Linked DNA regions of Homo sapiens: region 2 is linked to region 1. A link means that fine-mapping ties the variant in region 1 to the expression of a gene that starts in the linked region. Tissue or cell type: esophagus mucosa. Region 1 holds a variant in brackets; the other region holds the start of a gene. All regions are shown on one strand. Distances are from middle to middle.

Evidence for each region. PIP is the estimated chance that this variant, and not a neighbour inherited with it, causes the effect.
Region 2: UBA7 starts here. The variant in region 1 is the best candidate, but not a certain one, in a credible set for the expression of UBA7 in esophagus mucosa (GTEx, PIP 0.64).

The regions. Positions count from the first base shown.
Region 1 is chr3:49,839,027-49,843,185 of GRCh38, reverse strand. It overlaps TRAIP (TRAF interacting protein), which reads left to right. Exons shown (of 15, transcript NM_005879.3): 6 at 639-733; 7 at 1,247-1,360; 8 at 2,114-2,201; 9 at 2,813-2,902; 10 at 3,326-3,414. Among named protein-coding and RNA genes, the nearest start is that of TRAIP, 15 kb to the left of the region's middle. The variant A/G (reference allele first, on the strand shown) is at 2,541.
Region 2 is chr3:49,812,202-49,816,360 of GRCh38, reverse strand. It overlaps UBA7 (ubiquitin like modifier activating enzyme 7), which reads left to right and starts at 2,408. Exons shown (of 24, transcript NM_003335.3): 1 at 2,408-2,629; 2 at 2,714-2,882; 3 at 2,978-3,112; 4 at 3,193-3,299; 5 at 3,623-3,713; 6 at 3,818-3,953; 7 at 4,155-4,159. The coding sequence starts at 2,574. RefSeq lists an enhancer at 2,285-2,674.

The DNA.
Region 1 (4,159 bases):
GCCATTTGAAAGGGAAAGGGAGCCATCCTTGTGAACAGACAAGGCCCCAGGATATTCATTGTCTCTGTTCCTGCTTGGGGGCTGGGCTGGATCACATGGTCTGGCTGGTGGGAGGGAGCAAACTGGCACCTGGCTGCAGAGCAGGAGTCTCTCATGGTATTCTCAGGTCAGAGACAAGTGGTCTTAGGCTGAAGGCAGCCTGGCCAGCTTCCCCTGGCTCAATTATTCATTCTTGGCAACTGTCCATGGGTCTGGGTGTTGGATGGTGAGGCCTGGGTTTGTGCTCTGGACTTCTTCAGCCACCTGCACAACATGTACCATGAGGCCCAGACCACTGGACCTTGGCAGCCCACAGTGGGCCTGTAAATGCTGGCAGTGGGCTGTGTCTACTGTAAGATACCTTTCAGGAGGAAGCAGGCAGGGAGGTGAAGAAGCAGCTGGCTTAGAGCCTTTTAGAAGAAGAAGCACAAGCGAGAGTGGGACCCAGGAGCTTTACCTCCTGGGGTTTGGGAGTACATGGTTATCAGCATTTTCAAAACATAAGCTGCAGAGAGTTCTGGAGCAGAGTTTTCCTAGTGACTTTAGCAATGGCTCCTGAGGGCCTCCAAGCATCAGGTATGGGTGTATTTGCTCTTCAGAAGCAGATGAAGTACTTAGAGCAGCAGCAGGATGAGACCAAACAAGCACAAGAGGAGGCCCGCCGGCTCAGGAGCAAGATGAAGACCATGGAGCAGTGAGTTTGGAGCTGGGTCCTGCACTGTGCCTTTGCCCCCAGGGCCTGCAAGTGGTACAGTTCTTAGGACTGCAGCAGGGAGTGGGATTGGGTCATGTCCGAGGCTCAAATCTCCATAGGCCATGGAGGGCTCAGGTCAGCTGGGTGTGGGCACAGATCTTAGCCTCTATGAACTCTTCCCCCATTCCAAGGAATGGGAGCCCTTGCCACATTCCTCCCTGTCTCTGCTGCCTGTGGCCAGATGACCTGGTGGGTCTTTCCTTCCAGAAACCTCTCTCCAGGAAATCCCTGACCTTGAGACCCTCTTTCAGCACCTCTTCTTTCTCAGCAGCATCCTTGGAGCTATGCTCATCTCTGCCACAGGGCCTTTCCTTGGGCACACCCACCTACTAAAGCATCCTGGCAGCCTAGCCTGTTACCTTAGCAACGGCAGCAAAGGAAGGCAGAGCGGCACTGGGTACCTACCCATCAGCCTCCAGATTGCAAATGCCGTGGGCTGGGTGTATTTTTCAGGATTGAGCTTCTACTCCAGAGCCAGCGCCCTGAGGTGGAGGAGATGATCCGAGACATGGGTGTGGGACAGTCAGCGGTGGAACAGCTGGCTGTGTACTGTGTGTCTCTCAAGAAGTGCGTACTGTGGCCCCTCTCAGCAAACACAGGAGATAGGCCATGGGGCCCCAGCCGTGTCATTGCTCCCCATCTCTTGTAAAGCAGATGGAACTAAGGGGCAAACTCTGGAGCCATGCTGCCTTTGTTTGAACCCTGATTCCACCTTTCAGCAACTATGTGGCCTGCTGCCAGTTTCTTGGCCTCTTTGACCCTCAACTTCCTGAATGGAAATAGTAGTAGACCTGCCTCATAGGATTGTTGAGGATTTAGTGTGAATCTTAAGTGCTGTTTCTAAGGGAGTTGACCTAGCTCTCTGGGCTATAAGCCCCATTGTGATTGATATGTAGAGCCTGTTCCCCATTAGCACTATGATCCTGCCTGGCTGGGATCAAACTCTACTCATATTCTTCACTCTGGTGGGTGTAAGGTTGGCAGGAAGGGTGGAGGGCCACTTAGCTGAGAGGCATAGAGGGTCCAAGATGCCTCCTTTAAGACCAGGTGGTTTAGGGAGCCCCCTAGTGAGACTGGGGCTTTCTGCATGCCCTCTCAAGTCACCAGTGCCTGCAGGACAGGCAGGAGGAAATAGTCACTTCCTTGCATTCTCTGCAGGACCCTCCACAGTGCCACCTGGTACTTGTTGGGCTCAGGTGTCAAAGTAGGAATGAGAGTGAGTTGAGGGGTTGGGCAGTGCTTTGTGTTAGATTAGTGCTGTGGCTCAGTCTGACCTGCAGGTGTTCTTTTCTGGCATCTCTTTCCATGGCCACATTGCAGAGAGTACGAGAATCTAAAAGAGGCACGGAAGGCCTCAGGGGAGGTGGCTGACAAGCTGAGGAAGGATTTGTTTTCCTCCAGAAGCAAGGTAACTTAGCAGTGAACAGAGGTTGAAGGAGAAGTGGCTCTCCTTTTGTCATGTTCACTCTGGTCTCCTGAGCAAGGCCATGGGACCTGATGGCACAGCTGACTCCCTGGGGCAGCTGGAGGACTTACAGAAATTTGTTACCAGTCCTTACTGGGCATTGGCCTGAATATGTGGCTTGTCCACTAGGGGTGGACAGATCACAGAGGTATCCCCCAACATGTGGACACTGATGCTCCCCTCTGCTCTTCCTGGCTCCTGGGTACCTCTCAGCTGGCTGGAGAGCACAGGCCTCAAATGTGACAGCATCAGAGGCCTATTTTTGTACCACATCTGGAGTAG[A/G]AGGGCTCCTGGAACCTGATTCGGTCAGCACAGCTGCTTTTACTTCTGGCATGGTGCATCCACAGGCTGCAGGATGTAGGAAGCAGCCTTTGCTTCTAGGCAGCTCCGGATGTGCATTGCCAGACTGAGGCCTAGCCTCAGAGAGCTGGGATCTCTGCCCATATCTCTAGTCTCTTCTGGGCTACCTTGATCACTCCCTGGGGAGCAGCAGGAGGGGGCAGGGCACAAGGCTACCACTTGGCTTGTCTTTCATTCCCTACACTTTCTTATAGTTGCAGACAGTCTACTCTGAATTGGATCAGGCCAAGTTAGAACTGAAGTCAGCCCAGAAGGACTTACAGAGTGCTGACAAGGAAATCATGGTGAGGGACATCCCTGGCTTGACAGGAATGAGGGGTGGTTTGTGTGCCCTCCCAGAGCAGGGCTGGGCTATCTCTGCCCAGGACCCTTGCACCAGTCAGTGGTGGTTCTGGGCCCCTGCATCCTCCTGGGTCAGGGTGTGCCCCTTGGCCCTGGTCCGGACTGGAGCCTGGGCCTCCTCAACAGAGGGCAGACAGAACCATGAGTCTTCCCTCATAGTCTGTCCTGCACTTACATCCCTGAGGTCCCTTATCAGAGGAGGGGCTCTACCTGGGGCTTGGCCTCCTGAGCCTAATGATGAGGTATCAGGCCTTGCTCTGTTCCCAGTGGGCTGGCCTTTCATGCATGCTGCTCATGTCCTCTGCATTATCTCCGGACTTGATGCCTCAGCCTTTCTCTCACACACTTTTCTTTCCCTCCCCAAGAGCCTGAAAAAGAAGCTAACGATGCTGCAGGAAACCTTGAACCTGCCACCAGTGGCCAGTGAGACTGTCGACCGCCTGGTTTTAGAGAGGTTTGTTGAGCCTTGGGCGGTACAGGGGTCACAAGGTGGGAGAGCTTTCTGGTAACAGTCTTTACTCCTCCTGGCTTTGGTGGGGTGGGTGACCTCTGTGGACCTGATGTCTGCAGACAGCCTGCCCTGGGAGCCAGCCAAGATTTAGCTGGCAAGCAGCCTTGAAGCAAATTAGGCTCTGACACGGAGAGGCCAGAGAAGGCCAGAGGACCTAGAAGTGGTCTGAGAATAGGGCAGAAGCACTGACTGTCTTGGGGCATCCTGTTTATGGAGTAGCTCCCCACATTTATCTGTCCACCCCAGATTTTGAAACAAATATGAAACCACTGTAAAATAATTCCCTTAGTGCCAGGAGTGCGTGCTTTAAAGCTGCCAGCAGAGGGAGCCACGAGGCAGAAGGATTGGTGTCCCTGCAAGCATGGGCATCCATTTCTGCTCCTGAGAGTTTCACAGAAGCAGACTAGCTGAGAGCATCCTCAAGGCTACCTCCTGCCTGCCAAAAGTCCCCAGCAAGGACCCAGACAGAAAGCACACAACTCCTGTCAGTGGCCCCAGTCTTTTTTTTTTTTTTCCTTTTTCTTTTTTTAATGGAGTCTTACTCTGTTGCCAGGCTGGAGTGCAGTGGCACTATCTCGGCTCACTGCAATCTCTGCCTCCTGGATTCAAACAATTCTCCTGCCTCAGCCTCCTGAGTAGCTGGGATTACAGGCGCGCACCACCACGCCTGGCTAATTTTTTGTATTTT
Region 2 (4,159 bases), 27 kb after region 1:
ACTGTTTGATCCCAGGAGTTTGAGACCAGCCTAGGCAATATGGTGAGACCTCATCTCTACAAAAAATTAGCTAGGCATGGTGGCGCATGCCTGTAGTCCCAGCTACCTGGGAGGCTAAGACAGAAAGATCACTTGAGCCTGGAAGGGAGTTTGAGGCTGCAGTGAGCCCAGATTGCGCCACTGCACTCCAGCCTGGGTGACAGAGTGATATCCTGTCTCAAAATAAATAAATAAATAATAAACAAACACAGAATTACCATATGACCCAGCAACTCTACTCCTGTGTATATGCCCAAAAAAGCTGAAAGCCCAGGCGCTGTGGCTTACACCTGTAATCCCAGCACTTTAGGAGGCCGAGGCACTTGACCCCAGGATTTTGAGACCAGCCTGGGCAACATAGTACTTGTTCAAGAATCAGGCTGGGCATGGTGGCTCACACCTGTAATCCCAGCACTTTGGGAGGGCAAGGTGGGAGGATCACTTGAGGCCAGGCATTCGAGACCAGCCTGGGCAAGATAGCAATACCCACCCCCAATCTCTACAAAAGCAAGTAATTAATTAGGAAATTAGCCAAAGCCAGGTGCGGTGGCTCACGCCTGTAGTCCCAGCACTTTGGGAGGCTGAGGTGGGCAGATTGCTTGAGTCCAGAGATTCGAGACCAGCCTAGGCAACATATCAAAACCCCGTCTCTACTAAAAGTAAAAAAAGAAAAATTGCACTCTGGGAGGCCAAGGCGGGGGGATCACCTGATGTCAGGAGTTCAAGACCAGCCTGGCCAACATGGTGAAACCCCATCTCTACAAAAATACAAAAGTTAGCCGGGCATGATGGCAGTGTCTGTAATCCCAGCTACTCAGGAGGCTGGGTCGGAAGAATCATTTGAATCCAGGAGGCGGAGGTTGCAGTGAACCAAGATTGTGCCATTGCATTCCAGCCTGGGTGACAGAGCAAGCCTCCGTCTCAAAAAAAAAAAAAAAAGAAAAATTAGCCAGATGTGGTGGTGCATGCCTGTGGTCCCAGCTACTCAGGAGGCTGTGGTGGGAGGATTGCTTGAGCCCAAGACACTGAGGCTGCAGTGAGCCATGATCACACCACTGCACTCCAGCCTAGGCAACCAGAGTGAGACCCTGTCTCAAAAACAAACAAACAAACAAAAACCACTTTAACAGGGTATGGTGGTGCACACCTCTAGTCCCAGCTACTTGGGAGGTTGAGGCAGCCGGATCACTTGACCCCAGGAGATCGAGGCTGCAGTGAGCTGTGATTGTGCCACTGCAGTCCAGCCTGGGCAACCGAGTGAGACTGTCTCAAAAAGAAAAAAAAAAAAAAAAGGACATAGCAGCACTATTCACAAATCCAAAAGTTAGAAATAACCCAGATGTCCATCAACAGATGAATGGATAAACGAATTGTGGTATATACATATAATGGACTATTATTCAGCCATTAAAAGGAATGAAATATTGATACAGGCTATAAACTCTATGAACATTGAAAACATTCTAAGTGAAAGGAAATAGACATAAGAGGTCACATTTTGCAATTCTTTTTTTTTTTTTTTTTTTTTTTGAGACTGAGTCTCACTCTGTTGCCCAGGCTGGAGCGCAGTGGCTCGATCTCAGCTCACTGCAACCTCCATCTCCCGAATTCAAGCAATTCTTCTGCCTCAGCCTCCCGAGTAGCTGGGATTACATGTAGGCATGCACCACCATGCCTGGCTAATTTTTGTACTTTTAGTAGAGATGGGGTTTCACCATGTTGGTCAGGCTGGTCTTGAACTCCAGACCTCAGGTGGTCCACCCGCCTTGGCCTCCCAAAGTGCTAGGATTACAGGTGTGAGCCACCATGCCCGGCCACATGTATGGTAATTATTGAATGTGTTTGGTATGTTCGTTGTGGGTGATGAAATATTTTGGAACTAGATAGACGTGATGGTTGAACAACACTGTGGATGCACTAAATGCCACTGAATTGTACACTTTAAAATTGTTAACTTTATGTTACATGAATTTCACCTAAATTAACAACAACAACAAAAAAGAACTTAAGACAGCACTTGGTTTGGCTATTACGTAGTTTCGTGACAAACAGTGGTCCATCTCCCAGAGAACTGGCCCCAGGTTCCTAAGAAGGCAAAAGGAGACACAGGACCTCTCTGCACTATTTTTTTTGCAACTTCTTATGAGTCTATAATTATTTCAAAATAAAAGTCTAAAAGGAAAATAAGAACATGTGTGAATGTGGCTGCCCCATGCCTCCCACCCTCAGGTCTGACACTCAGAGACTGATCACCTCTTGAGAGTCCTGGAACTCATCCCAGGTTTTAGACCCTGAATGGCCTGTCTGGGGCTGGCGTCTGGAGGCAGGATCAGGAGCCAGCTCAGAGCATAGTTTAACTTTCACTTTTCTTTTCTCCAGGAAGAGAGCTGTGACCAGCAGCGTCCCTTATTCGCTTGGCCTTGGTTCCTGTTTGCACTGGCTACAGCAGGGCACTGGCCCCTACTGTCACCGCCACCTACACAAAGACCCTATCTCTGAGCGCTGCAGCCTACTGTTCAGCCCCAGGTTTGAGGATGGATGCCCTGGACGCTTCGAAGCTACTGGATGAGGAGCTGTATTCAAGACAGCTGTGAGGCCCGAGGTGGGGGGTGGAGAGTGGGATGGTCTTCAGACCTTGATCTACAACTGCTTGCCTTCTGCTTCCCATCCACAGGTATGTGCTGGGCTCACCTGCCATGCAGAGGATTCAGGGAGCCAGGGTCCTGGTGTCAGGCCTGCAGGGCCTGGGGGCCGAGGTGGCCAAGAACTTGGTTCTGATGGGTGTGGGCAGCCTCACTCTGCATGATCCCCACCCCACCTGCTGGTCCGACCTGGCTGCCCAGGTAAGTGTCCTGGGGGGCTATGGGCTGCCAGACCAAGGTGGGGGCACGGCCCAAGAGGAGTGTCTTTGCTCAGGCTGCACTGGCTCTCTCCCTAGTTTCTCCTCTCAGAGCAGGACTTGGAAAGGAGCAGAGCCGAGGCCTCTCAAGAGCTCTTGGCTCAGCTCAACAGAGCTGTCCAGGTCGTCGTGCACACGGGTGACATCACTGAGGACCTGCTGTTGGACTTCCAGGTCAGCTCAGGCCTGCAGCCCTCAAGAGCAGGAAGGGCTGGGCAATGGTTTTGGCCCTGCTGATCACTGTGTCCACCCAGGTGGTGGTGCTGACTGCTGCAAAGCTGGAGGAGCAGCTGAAGGTGGGCACCTTGTGTCATAAGCATGGAGTTTGCTTTCTGGCGGCTGACACCCGGGGCCTCGTGGGGTGAGTAAGACTGCCTGCCCAGCCTACCATATTACAGCCAGCAACTGGCCTCATGCTGTCCTCAGCTCCAGGCTTGCTCCAGTGCCCCTCCAACCAGCCTCAGGTCTATCCCAGCATGCCTTTCTGATTCTGGTCCCCAGTCCTGCCCTCTGGTTCCTCCAACCTAGCCTCCAGACCTGCTCCAGTAACCCTCTCAAATTCTAGTTCCCAAGCCTCTCCTTGCATTCCTTTCCCAATTCTGGCCCTCTGGCCCTGCCCTAGTATCCCCTATCCTTAAGTACAATCTGTAAGCCACCTCAGTGACCCCTACCACCCCATCTCAGGCAGTTGTTCTGTGACTTTGGTGAGGACTTCACTGTGCAGGACCCCACAGAGGCAGAACCCCTGACAGCTGCCATCCAGCACATCTCCCAGGTGGGTGCTGAGCTGTAGGCATTCACCTGCTGACCAAGGAGAGGCTGCCAGGGCCTGTGGAAGGCAGGTCCAGGCAACCCTGAGCCAAGCCTCCTCCTACCCAGGGCTCCCCTGGCATTCTCACTCTGAGGAAAGGGGCCAATACCCACTACTTCCGTGATGGAGACTTGGTGACTTTCTCGGGAATTGAGGGAATGGTTGAGCTCAACGACTGTGATCCCCGGTCTATCCACGTGCGGGGTAAGCCAATCCCATTCCAATTCCAGGTGCAGGGCCCAAGCCTCCACTGGAAGTGAGCACAGCCTGGCCCTTGGGATGGGTTTTTCTCCCTCCACCTTCTACAAGGTGCAGCAAGGTCTGGGACACAGATGCAAGATAGGATGGGGTGTGGGAACTACTCAGGCTCAAGGATCATTACTGACTAGACTGGAACTCCCTCAGAGGAT